Homo sapiens: one gene and its partners. The protein of the gene in region 1 purifies or fractionates together with the protein of each later gene. This does not show direct contact. Each region holds a gene or a part of one and is shown on either strand. Other genes may lie near its edges.

Evidence for each region. Proteins that work in one complex are often made in the same cells at the same time.
Region 2: the proteins of GOSR1 (region 1) and CHURC1-FNTB purify together in Homo sapiens (affinity purification with mass spectrometry, with the first as the bait; one large-scale study listed by BioGRID). This does not show direct contact.
Region 3: the proteins of GOSR1 (region 1) and TRDN purify together in Homo sapiens (co-immunoprecipitation; one large-scale study listed by IntAct). This does not show direct contact.
Region 4: the proteins of GOSR1 (region 1) and SCFD1 purify together in Homo sapiens (affinity purification with mass spectrometry; 2 studies listed by BioGRID and IntAct, with this or other methods). This does not show direct contact.

The regions. Positions count from the first base shown.
Region 1 is NC_000017.11:30,483,403-30,488,464, reverse strand, and holds part of GOSR1 (Golgi SNAP receptor complex member 1), read right to left. Parts: intron 4,252-5,062; coding exon 4,164-4,251; intron 3,803-4,163; coding exon 3,695-3,802; intron 1-3,694. UniProt on the Homo sapiens protein: Involved in transport from the ER to the Golgi apparatus as well as in intra-Golgi transport. It belongs to a super-family of proteins called t-SNAREs or soluble NSF (N-ethylmaleimide-sensitive factor) attachment protein receptor.
Region 2 is NC_000014.9:64,916,855-64,921,916, reverse strand, and holds part of CHURC1-FNTB (CHURC1-FNTB protein), read right to left. Parts: intron 1-5,062. UniProt on the Homo sapiens protein: Essential subunit of the farnesyltransferase complex. Catalyzes the transfer of a farnesyl moiety from farnesyl diphosphate to a cysteine at the fourth position from the C-terminus of several proteins having the C-terminal sequence Cys-aliphatic-aliphatic-X.
Region 3 is NC_000006.12:123,545,395-123,550,456, forward strand, and holds part of TRDN (triadin), read right to left. Parts: intron 3,219-5,062; coding exon 3,060-3,218; intron 1,979-3,059; coding exon 1,946-1,978; intron 1-1,945. UniProt on the Homo sapiens protein: Contributes to the regulation of lumenal Ca2+ release via the sarcoplasmic reticulum calcium release channels RYR1 and RYR2, a key step in triggering skeletal and heart muscle contraction.
Region 4 is NC_000014.9:30,631,813-30,636,874, forward strand, and holds part of SCFD1 (sec1 family domain-containing protein 1), read left to right. Parts: intron 1-2,134; coding exon 2,135-2,225; intron 2,226-5,062. UniProt on the Homo sapiens protein: Plays a role in SNARE-pin assembly and Golgi-to-ER retrograde transport via its interaction with COG4. Involved in vesicular transport between the endoplasmic reticulum and the Golgi.

The DNA.
Region 1 (5,062 bases):
AGGCTGGGCGCAGTGGCTCACGCCTGTAATCCCAACACTTTGGGAGGCCAAGGCAGGCGGATCATGAGGTCAGGAGATGGAGACCATCCTGGCTAACACGGTGAAACCCCATCTCTACTAAAAATACAAAAAAATAGCCGGGCATGGTGGCGAGCGCCTGGAGTCCCAGCTACTCGGGAGGCTGAGGCAGGAGAATGGTGTGAACCCGGGAGGCAGAGGTTGCAGTGAGCCAAGACCGCGCCACTGCACTCCAGCCTGGGTGACAGAGTGAGACTCTGTCTCAAAAAAAAAAAAAAAAAAGTATATTTAAAGAGTAAATGTCTATTAAGTTCAACAGAGCTTAAAAAAAAAAAAAAGGAGTAAATGACTAGCAATAGAATAATTGGATCAGGGCTGGGTACGGTGGCTCATGCCTGTAATCCCAGCACTTTGGGAGGCCGAGGTGGGTGGATCATGACATCAGGAGTTCAAGACCAGCTTGATCAATATGATGAAACCCCATCTCTACTAAAAATACAAAAATTAGCTGGGCGTGGTGGCGCACACCTGTAGTTCCTGCTACTCGGGAGGCCGAGGCAGAAGAATCGCTTGAACCCAGGACGTGGAGGCTGCAGTGAGCCGAGATCGCACCATTGCACTCCAATACTCCAGCCTGGACAACAGAGCGAGACTCCGTCTCAAGAAAAAAAAAAAAGAATAACTGGATCAAAGAATCTCACATTCATTTAAATTCTGGTAGTGCTAAACTGCCTTCTATAAACATTACATCAATTTATGTTCCCACCAGCAATATATGAGTACCCTTTTTAAATTTTTACTCTTGCCAATAATGGGTTATAAATGTTTCAACATTTGCTAATCTGACATGTGAAAAATCACCTCTTTTAGATTTCTGTATTTTTATTTGGAAATACTGCTGAAAATGTTTTTATAGTTTTGGCCATTCATTTTTTTGTAAGCAATTTTATATCCTTTGTCCATTTTCCTACTGTCTTTTTCTTATTTCTATTATATCTCTGTGTAGTAAGCAAATTAGCCATTCGTTATGGTTTCCAGTATCAAGTCTTATTTAGAAAGTCCTTTCTGCTCCAAAGTTTACAAATTTCACCTCTGCTTTATGGTTTCTTTTTCTATCCTTCTTGGATCCATTTGGAATTTGTTCTGGATGTGAGGATTGAGATAGAATTGTTTTTTTAAAATCTCTGAATAATTAAGCAATGGTTATAGTTCCATTTATTTTATAATTTCTCTTTGCCCCACTGATTTTAAACAACATCTTTATCAGAAACTAAAAATTTCCAAACATAATTGGGTCTACATATAAACTCTGTTTAATTGTTTTTATTTATTTATTTTTTTTCTCTAGTATCAAACTGTCTTAACTATTCCAGCTTTTTAACAGGTTTTAAGATCTGGTAGAACTAGGAACCCTCTACCACTTATCTTCATTTTCAGGTTGTTTTTCTTGGTTGTTCTTGTATGTCTATGATTCCAAATGAACTTTGGTGTCATTATGTCATTTGTTTTTAATTAAACAAACAACGATACAACCCTGCTGTTTCCACTGGGATGTCATGCAATTTAGACGAAAGTCTTCCTATCCAAAAACAGAATGATTCTTTCCTTTACTTAAATCTTGTTCTATGTCCCTCAGTAGAATTCTGCACATACAAGTCCTACACATTTCTTATTTAATTCATATATAAATGCTTTATAGTTTCTTCCATTGTATTTTCTAACAGGTTATCATTTATTTCCTATCATAATAGGAAAACTATTTGCTTTTATGTATTCATTTTGTGATCTACCATCTTACTGAATTTAATTGTTTCTAACTTTTTATCAGGTAATTTTCTTGCGTGTACTAGACATATAATTTTATCCTGCTACCTCACAGAAATTTTGCCTCTTCCTTTCCAATATTTACATCTTTTTTTTTTTTTTTGAAACAGTCACTCTGTTGCCCAGGCTGGAGTGCAGTGGTGCAATCTCGGCTCACTGCAACCTCCACCTCCCAGGTTCAATGTTCAAGCTATTCTCCTGCCTCAGCCTCCCAAGTAGCTGGGATAACAGGCACCCACCACCACGCCCCGCTAATTTTTGTATTTTTAGTAGAGAAGGGGTTTCACCCTGCTGGCCAGGCTGGTCTCCAACTCCTGACCTCAAATGATCCGCCCACCTCAGACCTCCAAAGTGCTTGGATAAGAGGTGTGAGCCACCATGCCCAGCATACATTTCATTTCTTTTTACTGTCTAATTGCACCATCAAGAACTTAAAAAACAACGTTATACATTTGTAGCGATCATGGGTATCCTTGTCTTGTTTCATACAATGGGAATGTTTTTATTGCTTTCTCTTTAAACACAATGCTAGCTTTTAACCCGATAATACATTTTTGTATTAAAGTATCTTTCTATTCCTACTTTTTTTTTTTTTTTTTTTTTAGATGGAGTCTCAGTCTTGTAGCCTAGGCTGGAGTGCAGTGGTGCAATCTCAGCTCACTGCAACCTCCGCCTCCTGGGTTCAAGCTTCTCCTGCCTCAGCCTCACAAGTAGCTGGGATTACAGGCGCCCACCACTATGCCCAGCTTATTTTTATACTTTTAGTAGAGACAGGGTTTCGCCATGTTGGCCAGGCTGGTCTCCAACTCCTGACCTCAGGTGATCCACCTGCCTTGGCCTCCCAAAGTGCTGGGATTACAGGCACGAGCCACTGCGCCCGGCCATCTATTCCTACTTTTAAAAACAGTTTTTAAAATTAGAAATAGTTGCTGACTTTTCTCAATATTAAAAATATTTGTGGCTGGGTACAGCGGCTCATGCCTATAATTCTAGCACTTTGGAAGGCTGAGGGGGTGGATTGCCCATACACAGGAGTTAAGAGAACAGCCTGGGCAACATAGCAAAAACCTGTGAACACAGGAGTTAAGAGACCAGCCTGGGCAATATAGCAAAACCTCGTGAACACAGGAGTTAGAGACCAGCCTGGGAAACATGGCAAGGACCTGTCTCTGCAAAAGCTTTTAAAAAATTAGCCAGGCGTGGTGGCATGTGCTTGTGGTCCCAGATGCTCAGGACGCTGAGGTAGGAGGCTTGTTTGAGCTTGGGAGGTTGAGGCTGCAGTGAGCTGTGACTGTACTACTGCACTCCAGCCTGAGTGACAGAGAAACCCTATCTCAAAAAAAAAAAAAAAATTGCCTTCCTATTTGTACTACCATATTTTTAACATATCCTCCATTTAAATCTTTAAAAGTTTATTTAGTTTTATTGGTGCATACACATTTACTGTTTTCTTAAACAATATACTAAGTATAGTAAATAATTCCCCCTCCATATTATCTTCAAAGCTAGCTGAAAGTACACGCTTACCCACCACGTTATTGTCTATACATGACCATTGGCTATTTCACTGTTACAGCTAGCTAGCTAGGTCTCCCATAGTGGAAGTATATGTACCCAGTGATGAATATTACTCAACTTCGCCAAGAAATAGCAAGAGCTATTAGATATTTTCAGAATTTTATAATGGTGACCCCAAAAAAAAGTAAAACAAGTCCCTTTAGCATGGCATTTATTTTCTCAGATTTTTCTCTTTGTCCTTTTAAATATATGTGCACATATCCAATGCAGGGATTAAAAAAAAAAAAACCCAAACTCCTGTGATAATGAAAACATCTCGAGCCCAATATATTACCTGCAATATGTCTCTATGCCGCTGTAATGTATGCATCAGGGCTGCATTCAAGGAGGGGACACCTGCACTGTTGGTATATTCTGCCATTTTATCATTTACCCCTGTAAGCTAGAAATAAAGAAAAAAAAAACAATCAAAATATTTTACTAAGCACTATAAACAGCTAAAAGCAAATTATTTGCCTATATGCCCTTTTGGTTGACAGCAAAACAAAACAAAACAAAACAAAACAAAAAACAAACAAGAGAGCAAGTAAGAATTCAGCATTCCCCCACATAATCCATAAAGACCAAAATAACATCATATCACCTGAGAATGGCTGTCATCAAAATTCAAGTGGTGTGGGGAGGTACACATATTGAATGGAATGGATAATTTCAATAAACATGTCTGTCTCAATATAATCCAGGATCCTACGTAACAAGTATACAGTTATTTGCAAAATAGCCATTTAACAGAAAGCACTTACCCTTGCCAAAAGTTGTTCAATCTCAATCGCCATTGTCTCAAACATTCTGTCTTGGCTTGATCCATTTAAAAGGGGTGTTGTATCAGAACTAAAAAGAAGTTCAGTTAAAGAGGATCCATTACTCAAATCAGTCCTTTAAAACATACTTAAAATAATAAGGTGATTAATAGGAGCCATAAAATGAATTATGGATTATGTTATATAGGGTCTGTGAGAAACGATCTTTTACATTTTTACCCCAAAGGAATTATGGTTCCTTCAACCTCAACATTACATTCTCTCTTCTTTCCTTGACTCTTACCAAGAGGAAATAAGATTGAGGTTTAAATGATCCACAGATTGGATAACTAGCTAACGAATACTCAGGAACTGGCTTTAAATCCAATATATACAGCCATGTCCTGCATGCTTTGGTACTAATCTTCTCCATTTTCACTTACAGTATGCAATCATCCTTTTGTTTTGTAGAATTGTGTTAAATTGCCTTTTCAAATCTGAATAGTCAAAAATCTATCTTTTTACAAGTGAAACTTAGGTTTGACAGATTCAAATTCTAAACCCACCTGTCCTCAGTGTTTCTTTTGCCTTTTCCAAAACACCACTAACCTTCATCAGGTTAGGTATGTATTAGCATCTGATGAGCAGCTCAATACAGATCAGAGTTATACTGGACACAGATAAATGCCCAGGCAATGACTATAGTCTCCAATCTTACTGAAGACTTTGTGCTACCCTGTGACAGTGCCTGGGTGTGGCAAATGAAAAGTATTAAATAAATGCTCTGTAGACTACTAATATAAATCCTCCTCTACCAGATATATGAAAAAGAACAATATGCCAATAGAATTAAAGCTTCATGAAGGAAGGAAAAAACTGCTCTGTCTTATTCATAGATATAT
Region 2 (5,062 bases), on another chromosome or scaffold:
CCTGTAGGATTCAGCTGTTGGTAGATATTTGGGTTGTTTCCATTTGGGGCTATTATGAATAAAGCAGCTATAGAGATTCATGTGCAAGTCTTGGATGGATACATGTCTTCCTTTCCCTTGGGTAAATATGTAGAAGTGGAATTGCTAATATGGTAAAAATATGGTATATTTAACTTTACAAGAAACTGCCAAATGGTTTTCCAATTTACATTCCTGCCAGCAATGTGTGAGTTCCAGTTGCTCTATAGCTACATCAATACTAGGTACTGCTTTTTATTTTTGCCATTCAGTGACGTAAAGTGGTATCTCATTGTAGTTTTAACTTTTGTTTCCTTGATGACTAATGATGTTGAGCATCTTTTCATGGTGCTTATTCATGTATCTTCTTTTATGAAATGTCCATTCAAGTCTTTTGCCCATTTTCAAAAAGTTAGGTTGTTTATTTTGAGTTGTAAGAGTTCTTTATATATCTTAGATACAAGTTTTTTCCCAAATATATTTTCTCCGTCATTGATTTGCCTTTTTTGATGGTTTCTTCTAATGAGCAAACAAGTTTTGATTTTCATAAAGTCCAATTTAACATTTTTTCTTTTATAATTTATACTTTTTTTCTCCTAAGACATCTCTGCCTACCCCAGGGTTGCACAAAGTTTCTTACATTTTTTTCTAGAAGTTTTATAGCTTTTAGTTTGTAGATTTAGGTTTATAATCCATTTTGAAATAATTTTATATATGAGGTAAGGATCAAGGTTTATTTAGTTGCGTATGGATTTCCAGTTGTTTTGGCAAGATTTGTTGAAGAACTGTCTTTCCCCCCACTGAATTACAATGGTGCTTTTGTAGAAAAAAGTCAATGACCATATATATGTGGGTCTGCTTTGACTATTCTGTTCCCTTGATACATATATCTACCTTCCCACTAATATCAAACTCTCTTGATTACTATAGTTTTTATAGTTAGTCTTTAAATCAGGTAGTTTATGTCCTATAATCTGGCTATTCTTGGTTCTTTTCAGTTTCATGTAAATTTTAACATGAGCTTACACACTTTACAAAAAAGTCTACTGGAGTTTGAATTGGGACTGCCTGGAATCTATAAAATCTGACTGCCAAGGACTCCAAAAAATTAAGGAAAACAAAACAGTTTTTAAAAAGATCTAAATGCCAATTTCAAATAAATATAACTCTGAACTGGACTGCATCCACAGACACAGGTTCCTTGCACAACGTGGCCTAGCCTCTGTAATCTGACCATGAAAGTAGGCTGAATGTGAGTCTAAGAAAACACTGAAGGAAGAGAAGTATCTATGTATCTGTTGTCTGGTAAGTAAATGCTTCAAATGGCAAAATACAAGTACAGTATATAAGAAGCGGATGGGACTTTCTTTAAGAGCCCTGGTCATTTGAAAGCAGCAAGAGTAACCTTCATCAGTGAGGCACAGTTCTTTTATTAGATGAGGCAAGACTATTAACATCCAAATTTGGGAAAGTAAACTAAAGCACACATTATTCAGGGAAGGTTTTCAGGCTCCCATAATAGGTGGAAAAGAATGCAATTCAAATCAATTCCACAATAATAACAGTAGACCATAACAGCTTAAAGAAGGAAAAAAGTCGACATGTTTAGTACCCTTAGAAAATCTGATTCAGATAAATCCTGGTTAAGGATTTGTAAAGGTATACAAGTGTGCAAGAAGAAATGGCTGAAAACTGTAAGAATAATTAATATGAGAGTATGTTATAAAATCTTACGAGAAAGCTGTAATTATTCTGATAAAGACTGGATCAATTTTTTTTCCAGCAAATTATTTCAGATGATACAAGTTAATAGCTAATGTATATATTTTGCCAGGGAATGTTTAAAAATGGAAAATACGGTTTTTCTTAAAGAACCAATTTTTTGTTTCATTGATTTTCTCTACTGTATTCTCTCAGTATTTTCTACTCTGATCCTTATTATTTCCTTCCTTCTGCTTGCTCTGGGTTTAGTTTGCTCTTTTTTTTCCATTGTCTTTTTCTTTTTTTTTCTTTTTGAGACATGGTCTCACTCTGTCACCCAGGCTGGAATGCTGTGGCGCAATCTTGGCTCACTGCAACCTCCGCCTCCTGGGTTCAAGTGATTGTCTCACTTCAGCCTCCCAAGTAGGTGGGACTACAGGCACACAAAACCATGCCAGGCTAATTTTTGCATTGTTTGGTAGAAACAGGGTTTCACCATGTTGGCCAGGCTGGTCTCAAACTCCTGACCTCCAGTGATCTGCTAGCCTCGGCCTCCGAAGGTCCTGGGATTACAGGCGTGAGCCACCATACCTGGCCCATTTTTCCATTGTCTTAAGTGGAAGGTTAGGTAATTGATTGAAAAGTATACTTTTTAAATATAGGCACTTATAACTATAAATTTTAAGATGCAGAGTATCATTTTAAGGCACTCTTACATACAACTGTTTTGCTAATTATATATTACTCAGCATTTAATTAAATCTGGTTCAATGTTATCTACTAAGCAACAACTTGAATATATGAAGTTTGGTAGCTTAGCTTTAAATGACAAATACAAAACAAGTAATTTTAAACATATCACTAACATTGATTTTTTCCCACTGATTCATAATGTATTTCTGTATTCCTGTTGCATTACTAACAAAATTTCAAGCTGAAATTAAAATATATGAAATGTTTCATTTCCAGTTTGATATGAAAAATATTTGATTACAATTTTGTGCCTGTTCAGTAATTTTAGAAAATGTAGTAGAGTTCTAGTTCTGACTGGTTTGCTAAATGCTTTTCTGAAGGAAAAAAAAAATGTGGTTCACCATTGAGTTAAAAAACATTTGGGTTCAGAAAATTAGTATGGTTCATTCCAACTTGACTCATGTTTGAATTCAAATTCTCAGTGTTAACAGTATAAGCAAGTAGGCCAGAGCCCCATTAAGAATTCAGTACTATATATTTCTAGTCTGTAAAAATAAATGACAAAACTCCAAACAACTTTATGTAATCGAAGATAAATAATTAACTATTACTTACTCATTCTACACTTAGAGCTTCCCAACAAATGATTTTTTGTTTGTTTGTTTTTTTAAGTAGACAGGGTTTTGCTCTGTTGCTCAGGCTGGAGTGCAGTGGTGTGATCTTAGCTCACTGGAGCCTCGAACTCCTGGGTTGAGGGAATCCTCCTGCCTTAGCCTCTTCCCAAGTAGGTGGAACTATAGGCACACACCACCACGCCTGGCTAATGTTTTTTAATTTTTAATAAGGATGGGGTCTCACTATGTAGCCCAGGCTGGTCTCAAACTCCTGGGTTCAAGCCATCCTTGTGCCTCGGCTTCCCAAAGTGTTAGGATTACACGTGTGAGCCACTAGGCCCGGCCCACCATCTTCTTATTACCCTTCCCTTTGCTAAGCTTCTGCAAAGCTGAGCAAAGCAGTGGGCTTCTGCTCTTACTGCACTTAAAAATAGGTCATGACTTCAAAGAACCCCAGAGTTGGAAGGATCCTTGACATTCCAAATGGTCAGTTAGTCTCTACTGAACAATAGGAAGAGAGCTTAATTCCTTTAAGAGTTACTCATTCCATTTTGAAATGTCAGAATGTTCTTTATTCTGATTCAAAGTCTAAGACCCGTAACATCCACCCACTAATTATTTCTAAATCTGCCTTCTAAAATTCCAAAGAAAAGTTTAATTCTTCTTCATGACAGTCTTTTAATTATTTTAGAACAGAATAAAATCAGAGAAAAGTGCCTTTGAAAGGCACTCTCCTGGTTTTCCAATCACCTCGATCCCTTTTTCTACTATTCTTCCTTATACTTTATTTTCATTTCTGAAGTTAATTTAGTCTTTGGAGCTCAGTCCTTGATTCTCTACATTTTTTTCCTCAGAGAACAAATCCTATTTTGACACTTGTATTTGACTGACTCATCTATCTACATAGTTGTACCCAAACTGCAGTCTTATATCTTCACTTGACCCTTCGGATATTCTCAACCTCAGGTGAAGCATGATATTAATAACAATTTGACCATTTGTCCCCAATTTTGTTTTTTCTTCCCATATGCCTCCAATTTCTGTAATGATACTTCCAACATCCCAGTTGCCTAGATTGAAAATCCTGAGATCATGTGATCATGTATAGGTCTCCCCTTATTCACTTCTACATTAAACAGGTTGAATCTTGTTAATTCTTTTTTTTTTCAACAGGGTCTCGCTCTGTTGCCCAGGCTGGAGTGCAATGGCACGATCATGGCTCACTGCAACCTCCCACCTCAACCTCCAAGTAGCTAGGACTACAGGTGCATGCCACCACGCTTGGCTAATATTTGTGGTGGTTTTTTTTTGTTTGTTTATTTGTTTTGAGACGGAGTTTTGCTCTTGTCACCCATGGTGGAGAGCAGTGGTGTGATCTCGGCTCACTGCAACCTCTGCCTCCCAGGTTCAAGCGATTCTACCGCCTCAGCCTCCCAAGTAGCTGGGATTACAGGCGCCTCCCACCACACCCAGCTAATTTTTGTATTTTTAGTAGAGACGGGGTTTCGCCATGTTGGCCAAGCTGGTCTCGAACTCCTGACCTCAGGTGATCTGCCAGCCTTGGCCTCCCAAAGTGCTGGGATTATAGGCGTGAGCCACCGTGCCCAGACTATTTGTATTTTTTGTAGAGACAGGGTTTTGCCATGTTTGAGACTGGTCTCAAACTCCTGGGCTCAAGTGATCCACCTGCCTTGGCCTCCCAAAGTGCTGGGATTACAGGTGTGAGAACCGTGCCCAACCTAATTCTTTCTTTGAAATAAGGTCTTCATTATCTCATGCCTACACCACTGTTGCCATGGCTCCTCAAATGCCCTGTGGAGTTCTGTCTTTACACACCCTCTACCCCACCATTTCAACATTCAGCCATAAGATTCATTTTCCTAAATAACAGATTTCAGAATCATTTCTCTATTAAAATTTTGATGGTGGCCCAATGCCTAAAATGTAAACTCTAAACTTCTCAATATGACTTTTAAGTTTTACAATAACTCCACTCTTAAGAATCCAACCTAAGGCCCGGCGCGGTGGCTCACGCC
Region 3 (5,062 bases), on another chromosome or scaffold:
AGCTCTCATTGCCTCTATACTTCCATGAAAGAAAAGCTTACACATAAAAAATAATAATTACAATGAAATAGATCTTCTTGAATTCACTTTCAACTAAGGTTTATTATTACATAGCCTCTGTACCCAAGATAGAGCATCTGAGATTTTTACTTAAATGTCAATTTTTTTCATGTAACTGTGTGAATAATACTATTAAGAAAATATATTCAGGTGATTTAAAGTCAATTCTCCTAATTCTGAGTATGTAATCTTTAAGGACATTAGTGCACATGTGTTGAAGGACATATATCCCTTAGACTATTTTTGACTAATAAACATTTCTAACATTTTTTAAAAGTACCCTAAACAACTATTTAATAGTTTTTCTGGCAAAAATTTGATTTGCTGAATCAAGGAAATAATTTAAGAAACAATAGTAAAACAGCTTTGTATGAATTTGCAGTTTATACTAATTACTATATGAAGCTTAATTTTAAAATAATTTCAAAGAAAAATTTAAATCAAAAGAAAAGATTTTTTATTAAATAGTAAATATCAATTTATGAAAAACATGGCTTTATAATAGTCTTATGGAATTCAGTTTATAAGTATAAATGAGCAAACATTATTTATCTGTTTTCCCTTCTTCCATTTCCAATGAAAATAAACGTGCATAAGCTGTTATTTCCAGATAATGACTAATAACTCACTTAAAGCTTGACTATGTTCACTCTCTATGGGAAATCAGCTATAAATCTCTTGAAGTTTATAGACAAATCTAGAATCTCTAAACCTGGATTTGATGGCTGAAGTCTGTCTTGAGTACTTGAGTTCTCATTCTGGATTTGCAGGTGTATAAACCCTTCCTTTCTCCTCACAGAGCTTTATAAACACTTTCATTTCTGGATGCCTTTGCCATAGTTGAGTTTGACTGGCTTAGCTCTTTTTTGCTGTGTAAGTTACAAATCCAAAGTTTCTAATTTAACATACACTAAGTGGATTTTACCCCAGATAGTGTGGGGTAGTCATCATTTTCTCAGGGAAGGCTGAAACTGTAAGTTTGGATCCCATTGTTTGAATCCACAGTAGGTATTAGGAGAGAGCAACAGAAGCCAGGGTTATCTTCCTGGGTAAACCCTCAACAGCCTGCCCATGTGTAGCAGTAACTAAAACACTGCAATTGTTTTAAGTCTGGCTTGAATGTTGGCTGTTTTCTCACAACAAATGTACCTCAAGATGGTACTACCTGCTCCCCAGTGCCCCTTCCAGATGCAGTTCCTACCCCTTCCTGTCAAAATCTCTGTCTTCTGAAATTCCTGCCCCATTGCTGTCCTCCTTTGTCCTAGGTTTATCGTTCTTATCATTCAGGTTGTGACCACTTCACTCAGTCACCTTATCTATTCCTGCAAGTAATTCCTCTACAGCACATCCAGGCACATCCAGGTAACTCCACTCCATGACAGTGACACATCACACATACCAACTGGATATGCCTTTGCCTCCTAGGCTGTTATGTCCCTCACCGTCTTGTTGTCCTGGCCCATAGTCATCACCTAACATGCAAAATAATGATGGCAAAAAAAATAAAAGGAAAAGAATAAGAATAAACATTTAAAATCAATAAATCTGACCATGGTGAGAATAAATCATGGGTGTCATTTTCTGGGCCATTTCTAAGGCTACAGAATTCTCCCCTCATTCCTCAAATTCCAGCTCATATTGGTCTGTGTATAAATGAATCCATACAAATCTACTGAATAAGGCATTTAAAAAATAATCAACAGAAAAGTAGTGAGATCACCTTCATTGGAAAAGAAATTGAGTATTTTTTTTCTGACTATAAATCTTGACCTAATTATTAAACAAAACCTTTATATTAAAATAAGTAAAATATATTTGAACCATGCTGAAAACCAATATTACCATAAGAGAAAAATAATTATTATCAAAGGTGAAAACAACTAACCTTTTTTTCTCAAGGGAGGCTCATCTATTTCTCCTAGACCAAGATTAAAAGAAAAACAAAGTTAGAAAATATTTTAGCATAGAATAATATGACATCATTATTTTCCCCTTTTGTTTATTTAAAAAAATCTATTAGTTTTAACAATCATAGTCTTTACATTACTTTGCTTCCCAAATTCCAGTTTTTAAGTATAAAGTTTGTTTATATACATTTATATAAGATTGTTTCATTTTTATGAATTCAATAAAATTGTGGCAGTGATCCAAATTATACATTATAGGTTATATATCATATTAATTTCAACTCTCTATTGTTCATGTTGAACTCTTACTGGGGCCAAAACAAATATAATTTCAGGAAAAGTTATAAAAATACTCTAATAATAAAAGCTTTCCTGGTAGTCAAGGCTGAATACATGATTTCTGATGACTAAGACTGACCCTAAAAAGTGTTATCTAATAGATGGAATCACAGTGCTTTGTTCTTTTCATACTCATTCAATGGCAGCTTTTATGTGGTTTGAGATGGCTATTTCCTTTTATTCATTAATATATATGAGAGAGCACATAGGTTAGTTGCATAATTGTTAGGACATTTAGAATGTGTCCTTCTATTCTACACCACCATTTGGTCCAATAAATTTACTCTTTTGATTGTACTTTTAGTAAGATTGCTTTCTGCTATTTGACTATAAATATGACATATGTGTATAAAACACTTATATGTATTTTTAGTTTTACTGTTTTTATTTTAATCTTCCTAGAGATAAACTTGAAAAATAACTATTTTTTCCAAAGAAGCATATAAATGTGAGTTTGTATTGTGGTTTTATAGCAGAGCATAATGAGACTCCCTTTGCTGTAATGCTACATTAATATTAACATTTAATTTTGACATCTTTGCCATAATGGTAGATAAGCTATAAGATGAAAATTAAATAAAGAACAATTTACTGTGTTTGGCAGCCTGTTGATATGCTTTTAGCAGTCAGAAGTGTATTCATTTTGGTTTAGCTTGACCCAAGTGCTCATTTGAATTTAAACTGAGGCAAGCCACTATAATACATATTTAATGTTGCTCCTAGCAGTTAGATATATCTCTATGTTCTTTGTACCTTTATCAGTATCTTCGTCACCATCATCATCTTCTTCATCTTCAGATGAGATGATGTCAGATAACAAAGAAAAGAAGCCATAGATCCAGTCCGTGGTTTCCTCCATAGCATCACGTACCAGTTTTAAAGGATCTGAGCCAATCTTGGCAATAGAGCTTGCTAAAAGTAATTAAAAAAAAAAAAAAAGAAAAAGTTTGTGATCATTTCCAAATAACTTAAGAAAAGCTGTTTTTACTGATTTGTTGTTTTGACAAAAAGAATATGTCAATTTCAACATTCTAAATATCTCCTGGCTACAATTTTTTGCGCAGAAATAGAAACTTCATCTTGCTATAATATGCATGCATGCCAAGAAAGAAAATGCCCTTGGGAAGTTTATAATCCAAATAAGAGTTAGCACTGGAAAAAAAATTAGGAATGAATTAAAATAATGTGTATTTATGTTACCCAGAGTGCAAATAAACCCTATGTTATGGATGTTCAGGAATGGAAGAAATAATTTCAGCACATATTGTATGGGACAGCATTATAGAAAAGATGACTCTGTAAGTTTTCAGACAAATAACAAGTTCTGCAAGTTGACTAAGGTAGTTGTGGCTAAATTAAGACTGATAGGCCCATTTATTCTAATTTGTGATACCACAGGAAGAATCTGGAATAGTCAAGTTAGTGATCATATCAAGCTCTAGTTGGAATAGGTTGGATTTATCTTAGTCATCCCTGTACATGAAATAAAAAAGTATTTGAACTGCTAGTAACTTCAATGGATAGAATCTATAAGTCTTCCCTTTTCTATGTCCTAGGAGATATAAAATGTTTGCTAAATGAAAGATTGAATCATAAAAAAATGCAAACAAATATATTAGGGATTTCCAAAATTTTATTCTTCCAATCATATGAAAACTGCTCTGAAGAGGCAAGCATAGCCTTTAGGATGTGATTACAGAGGTGATCTATCTAGAAATATGGTATAAATTGCATCTGATTTTTTATCAAGCTGTAATTAAATTTTAGAGCTGTGTTTTCCTTAATTTTAAAAACTATTTTAGCTTTTCAGAGATTTTTCTCTCTTTGATATATTTAAGAGATGAGAATTATATCAATGTATTATACTACCTAAAGGTTAAGTACATCTAATTAGGCTTTTACTGTGACTAACATAGTAAGTCATTGGAAGATTTGAGCAGAAAGATGAAGTGATTTGACTTCCTTTACTGTGTTGAAGTTTGAAAGGGTGCCAGGCTGGGAACAGGGAGATGAGTATGAAGCCAACTGAAATCATCCAAGAGAAAGATGATCATGATTTCTATCAGGGTGGTAACAGTGTGTGTGGTGAGATGCAATCAGATTCTGAATGTATTTCAATGACAGAATTAATAGTAGAAGCTTCCAGTGTGGCTGTGATGTGAGAGAAAGACAGAATTCCAGGATAACTTCTAAGTTTTTGGTGTGAGAAACTAGAATGAAGGAAGGAAATGCTCTGAGCTGGGGGAGGACTGGAGAGAAACAAGATTCTTGCTGGGTGTGGGTGGGGTTGGGAGTAGAAAAGTAGCTGAGTTTTAGACTTTCAAAATTTGGGTTGCCTATTAGATACTTACATCAAGATGTAGACATTTGTGTAATGCAACATGATTTACAAAAGAGAAGCTCTAACTGAAAACAGAAACTTCAGAATCCAACGGAAGACAGAAGGTATCAAAGCCATAACAATGAGTGAGATCACCAAGGAAGTTGACCCAGAGACACTTTAACAAATGTCAGGGAGATAAGTCAGAGAGATAGGGAGGAGCCAACAATGGATTCAGAGGGGAGATGACAGAGAGAGTGACAGGCAGAGCAGGAGTGAGCAAGAAAGAGAGAGGGAGAAGGAACCAAGAAAGTGTAATGCACCAGATATCAGGTTAATACATTGTTTTTGAGGAGGACAGAGTGATCAACTGGAAAATGCTATGGATAGGTCAAGAAAGTTGAAGACTGAGAATGGACCTTTGGATTGGATGACG
Region 4 (5,062 bases), on another chromosome or scaffold:
GGGTGGGCGGATCACTTGAGGTCAGGAGTTCGAGACCAGCCTGGCCAACATGGTGAAACCCCGTCTCTACTAAAAGTACAAAAATTAGCTGGGCATGGTGGCGTACCCACCTGTAATCCTAGCTACTTGGGAGGCTGAGGAAGGACAATTGCTTGAACCCAGGAGGCAGAGGTTGTAGTGAACCGAGATCGTGACACTACACTCTGGCCTGGGCAGCAGAGCAAGATTCTGTTGAAAAAAAAAAAAAAAAAAAAAAAAAGAACGTTTGGAGAAGGACTGTGTTCATGGATAGATACTAATACTTCTGTATACTAAAAGAGTCCAATTTTATGGTGTTCTAAGCTATTTGCATTTTGTTCTATTTATGATGTTATAACCAATTTTTATGATATCATATATTGAATTGAAATGTACTCTTACTGGGAATATAGTTTTAGATTTTCGATAAGTAACTTGACAGAATCTGGTTTAATCAGCTCAAATTCTTCAGTTGTATAATGAGCATTTGTTAATAGACTGTTATAGTTTGTCAATTCCAAATGTCCTTTTTTACATTTCTGAAATTAGGATCTATCTTATCACTGATGATATGTCATAACTGGCAGCATTTTTATTTCTCAGTAGTATATAAAATATATTTTAAAAATTATGTTTTAAAATTGTTACCACCTTGGGTTTCATGAAATACGGTATTTGATGAGTTTTCCTTTCATTTTTATGTCAGACTGAAATAAGCAGGTTTGCTTTGATAATGTGTTAATTTTTATGGACTGAAGTAAAGTTTAACTTCATGCTATCCTTGGAAATTGTGGTTTATTAATAAACATTGAGTGCCATTGTCTCTGTACTAAGTGTTTAACTCCTTTATTTACTAATGGAAGGACTGAAGTTTAGAAGGCTTAAGTGATTGTCTCACATTTGTACAACCAGTTAATAACAGAGCCATGGCCACATTGCTTGACCACTAATTCTGTGCTGTTTATCTACTGAACTGTAATGGCTCAGTAACAGTAACTAACAGAAGTGAGGCCTTACTCAGTACTTCATTCAGGGGTAATAGGATAGTCTACCAGTTTGAGAGTCTCGTAATCTCTGCCTAACTTGCTACTTGCCACCAGAGCATGGAAATATTACACAGCTACCATGGTGAACTCTTGTGTACTTTGCCTCCAACCATTCTCCTCTATTTGCTGGAGAATACTGTATCAGTTACTTTATACCCTGCAAGCTGGTTTAGGCTAATTTGTAGGAAACAGTAATTACAAGTTTCCACAGTATGAAATGGTGGTTGTAGCCCATTAGACAGTTGGACAAGCAGTGTGAAAAAGACCACAACCTATGGCAGCCATCACATTATCATTCTTGATATCAGTGGCAACAGTTATTAAACACAGACTCACTGGCAGCATGTGCCTCTTTCCTCTCTCTCCTTGATTATAGAAGGATGACTAGAGAGAGGTGAATATTCCTCATATAAGCATGGTTTGATGTTGGGATATTTGTATGGAAATTGTTCCTAAATTGTAAAAGGAGAAAACTGTAAAATGACTTAATCTATAAGATGCTTACATTCTCTTATGAAACAATAAATAGACAAAAATAGATTGTCTTTAATTTTTAAGGAAACATTTATATACCTTTCATTTAAAAAATATATTTGATTTCATGTTTGGTTAAATTTTTTTATAGCTTCTAAAGAATTGCTTCTAAAATTTTTTTCATTGCGTCCCCTAGCTTTCTGATTTTCCCCTCAGAGAGCCACACTTTCCTCACATTCACCCTTCCCCTCTGACCACCACATTTCTATGAAAAGTGGGAATAAGATTGATTCTGAATATGTTTTAGTTCTCATTCAAGGAGAGTGTTGGTAGAAAAGAATGTCTGACCATAAGCAGTGCTAAAAGTGTGAGCAGAATAGAACAAATGAAGACTAACAAGAAATTAGGGTCTTACTAATGCTAATAAATAATAACAACACTGACATGGGAGAAAGATAGGTTAACTCACTGATTAATTGCAACAAGAGCTTTTAGAGCACTGGTTACTGTCCTTGAGCTAGTGAACTCCCATTTTGAGGAATATTGTTTTAAATAAGTGAATAAAAAAATAAGTTTTAGTTCCTTATGTCTTCTAGGCTTTTACACTCTGATCGAGATCCTATTCCAGATGTTCCTGCAGTATACTTTGTAATGCCAACTGAAGAAAATATTGACAGAATGTGCCAGGTAATATGGGTTCTTATTTTCTGGACTCCTGAATTTGGAAATGGATTTTTTTTTCAAGAAAAATTCCTAGATGTCCAGGGTGAAAAATCAGAAATTCCTATGCCTACTTTCTCACTCTGATTTTTGAGACTATCTTTGAATTCCAAATAGCCTGAAAGACTTAAAACTTTTGGCTGAAGAAGTATTATACAGTAGTCCTCTCATGTCCACAGTTTCACTTTCCACAGTTTCAGTTATCCACAGTTAACCAGGTACTGAATATATTACAGTATTTTGAGAGACCACATTCATATAACTTTCATTACAGAATATATTTTCTGTAATATATTTCATTACAGAATATATTTTATAATTGCTCTATTTTATTTCTAGCTATTGTTGCTAATCATTTACCGTGCCCAATTTATAAATTATAAATTAAGTTTTATCATAAATATGTATGTATAGGAAAAAACATATACGGTTCAGTACTACCTGGTTTCAGGCATCCACTGGAGTCTTGGAAAATAACCCCTGCAAATAAGGGCAACCACTGTACTGGTAAAGTCTGAGTCTGGCTTTAACAAACAGAAAGCCTAGGTATATTGCCTTTCTAACTTATATAGGGTTTTCCTTTTCTAAAATAAGGGTGAGATTAGGAAGTCCACACTGGTGCAGAAGTACTATAAGGTAATCAAAGACCCAGGCTCCTTCTGTCGCTGATCATTCGTCTTTAGTTTGTTGGTTTTCCTTGTCTTGCTTGTCGCTGCGCCTGTAGGCATCAAATCTATGTTCACATCAACAAGAAGAGGGACATGGACTGTGCCAGCCCTGACTGTTGATTTTGATCAGGAATTTAAGCCTTTCCAGAAACTCCCAGAAGACCTTTATTTATTTCTCACTAGGTAGAATCAGTTACAAGGGTGGCTGCAAAAGTCAATATTTAGATGAGTCACCCCAAAGAAAATCTAGCAAGATTCTTTTAGCAAGGAAAAGGAGAAAAGTAGATATTGGATAGGTAAGTAACAGTGTCTTCCACAAGTCACAACATCTTTGTTATTGACTGTTGAATCAAATTGCTATTTAAATTGTTAGTGACGTTTGCAAATTTTGTGTCCTGTGTAGCTTTATGATGCCCAGCTTTCTCTTTTACCCTGCGTAAACTCAAGTATGCTATTCATGAAAGAGGTACCACTTGCAATCTCTTCTTCTTTCATTATTTAAATAACACCTTTATTGAAATTATAATTTACATACCATACAATTCACACATTTAAGGAGCACAAGTGTATGGTTCATTGGTTTTTAATATAGTCACAGAGTTTTGCAACCATCACCACAGTCAATTTTAGAACATTGTCATTACCTCAAAAAGAAACCTGGTACCATTTATCACATCCTCAACCCTCCCCCATCCTCTTCCATCCCTAAGCTACCTTCTGTTTCTGTATATTTGCCTACTCTGACCATTACATATGAATGAAATCCTATAATATGTGGTCTTTTGTATATGGCTGATTTCTCTTAGCATAATGTTTCCAAGGTTCATCCATATTGTAGCATGAATTGGTACCTTATTCCTTTTCGTGGCTGAATATATTCCATTGTATGGATGTACGAAATTTTATTCATCCTTTTACCACTTGATGGACATTTGGATTGTTTCTACCTTTTGGCTATTAATAATGTTGCCATAAATATTCATGTGCAGGTTTCTCTGTGGACATGTTTTCAATTCTCTTGTGGCCGTAAACACATAGGAATAAAATTGCATGGTCAAATGATAACTCTATGTTTACCTTTTTAGTAATAGACTGTTTTGCGAAGTGTGGTTGCACCATTTTATATTCCCACCAGTAGTGTGTGAGGGTTCTGATTTCTCCAGATCCTTGCTGAACACTTACTATCCGATATTTTTATTGTAGCCATCCTAATAGGTTTGAAGTGGCATCTCATTATAGTTTTGATTTGCATTTCTGTAATTAATGATATTAAGCATCTTTTAACATGCTTATTGGCCATTTGTATGTCTTTCTAGAAATATCTATTCAGATCATTCACCCAGTTTTTAATTGGGTTGTCTTTTTATTGTTGAGTTGATAGAATTCTTTTTCTGTTTTGGATACTAGACACTCACAAGTTTATGATTTGTAAATATTTTCTCCCAGTCTATGGGTTATCTTTTCATTCTCTGGATAATGTCCTTTGAAGCACAAACATTTTTGATTTTGATGAAGCCCAGTTTATCGGTTTTTTTTTTTCTTGAGTTGCTTATGCTTTTGGTGTCATATTTAGGAAACCATTCCAGATTCTTGTGTTTTCTTCTAAGAATTTTATAGTTTTGGCTCTTACCTGTAGGTCTTGATTCCCCTTTGCATTATTTTTATATATGGTGGGATGTAGGTGTCCAACTTTATTCTTTTGCATGTGGCTATCCAGTTGTCCCAGCGTAATTTATTAAAGAGACTATTCTTTCCCTAGTGAATGGTCTTGGCAGCCTTGTCAAAAATCAGCTGACCACAGATATCTTGTTTGATTTCTGAACTCTCAGTTCTATTGCATTGATATCTATGTCTTTCCTTATGCCTGTACCACACAGTGTTGATATCTCTTGCTTGATAGCAAGTTTTGAAATTGAGAAATTGTGTCCTCCAACTTTGTACTTTTTTTCAGACTGTTTTGGCTTTTCTTGAATTTCCAAATTACGATTAGCTTGTCATAAGTTTTGTGCTTCTTTTGTTAAATTTATTCTTTCATGTGTTTAATGCTTATTATGAATGGAATTCTTAATTCCATTTTTAGGATTCTTCATTGCAATTGTATAAAAATTCAATTGATTTTTATGTATTTATCTTGTA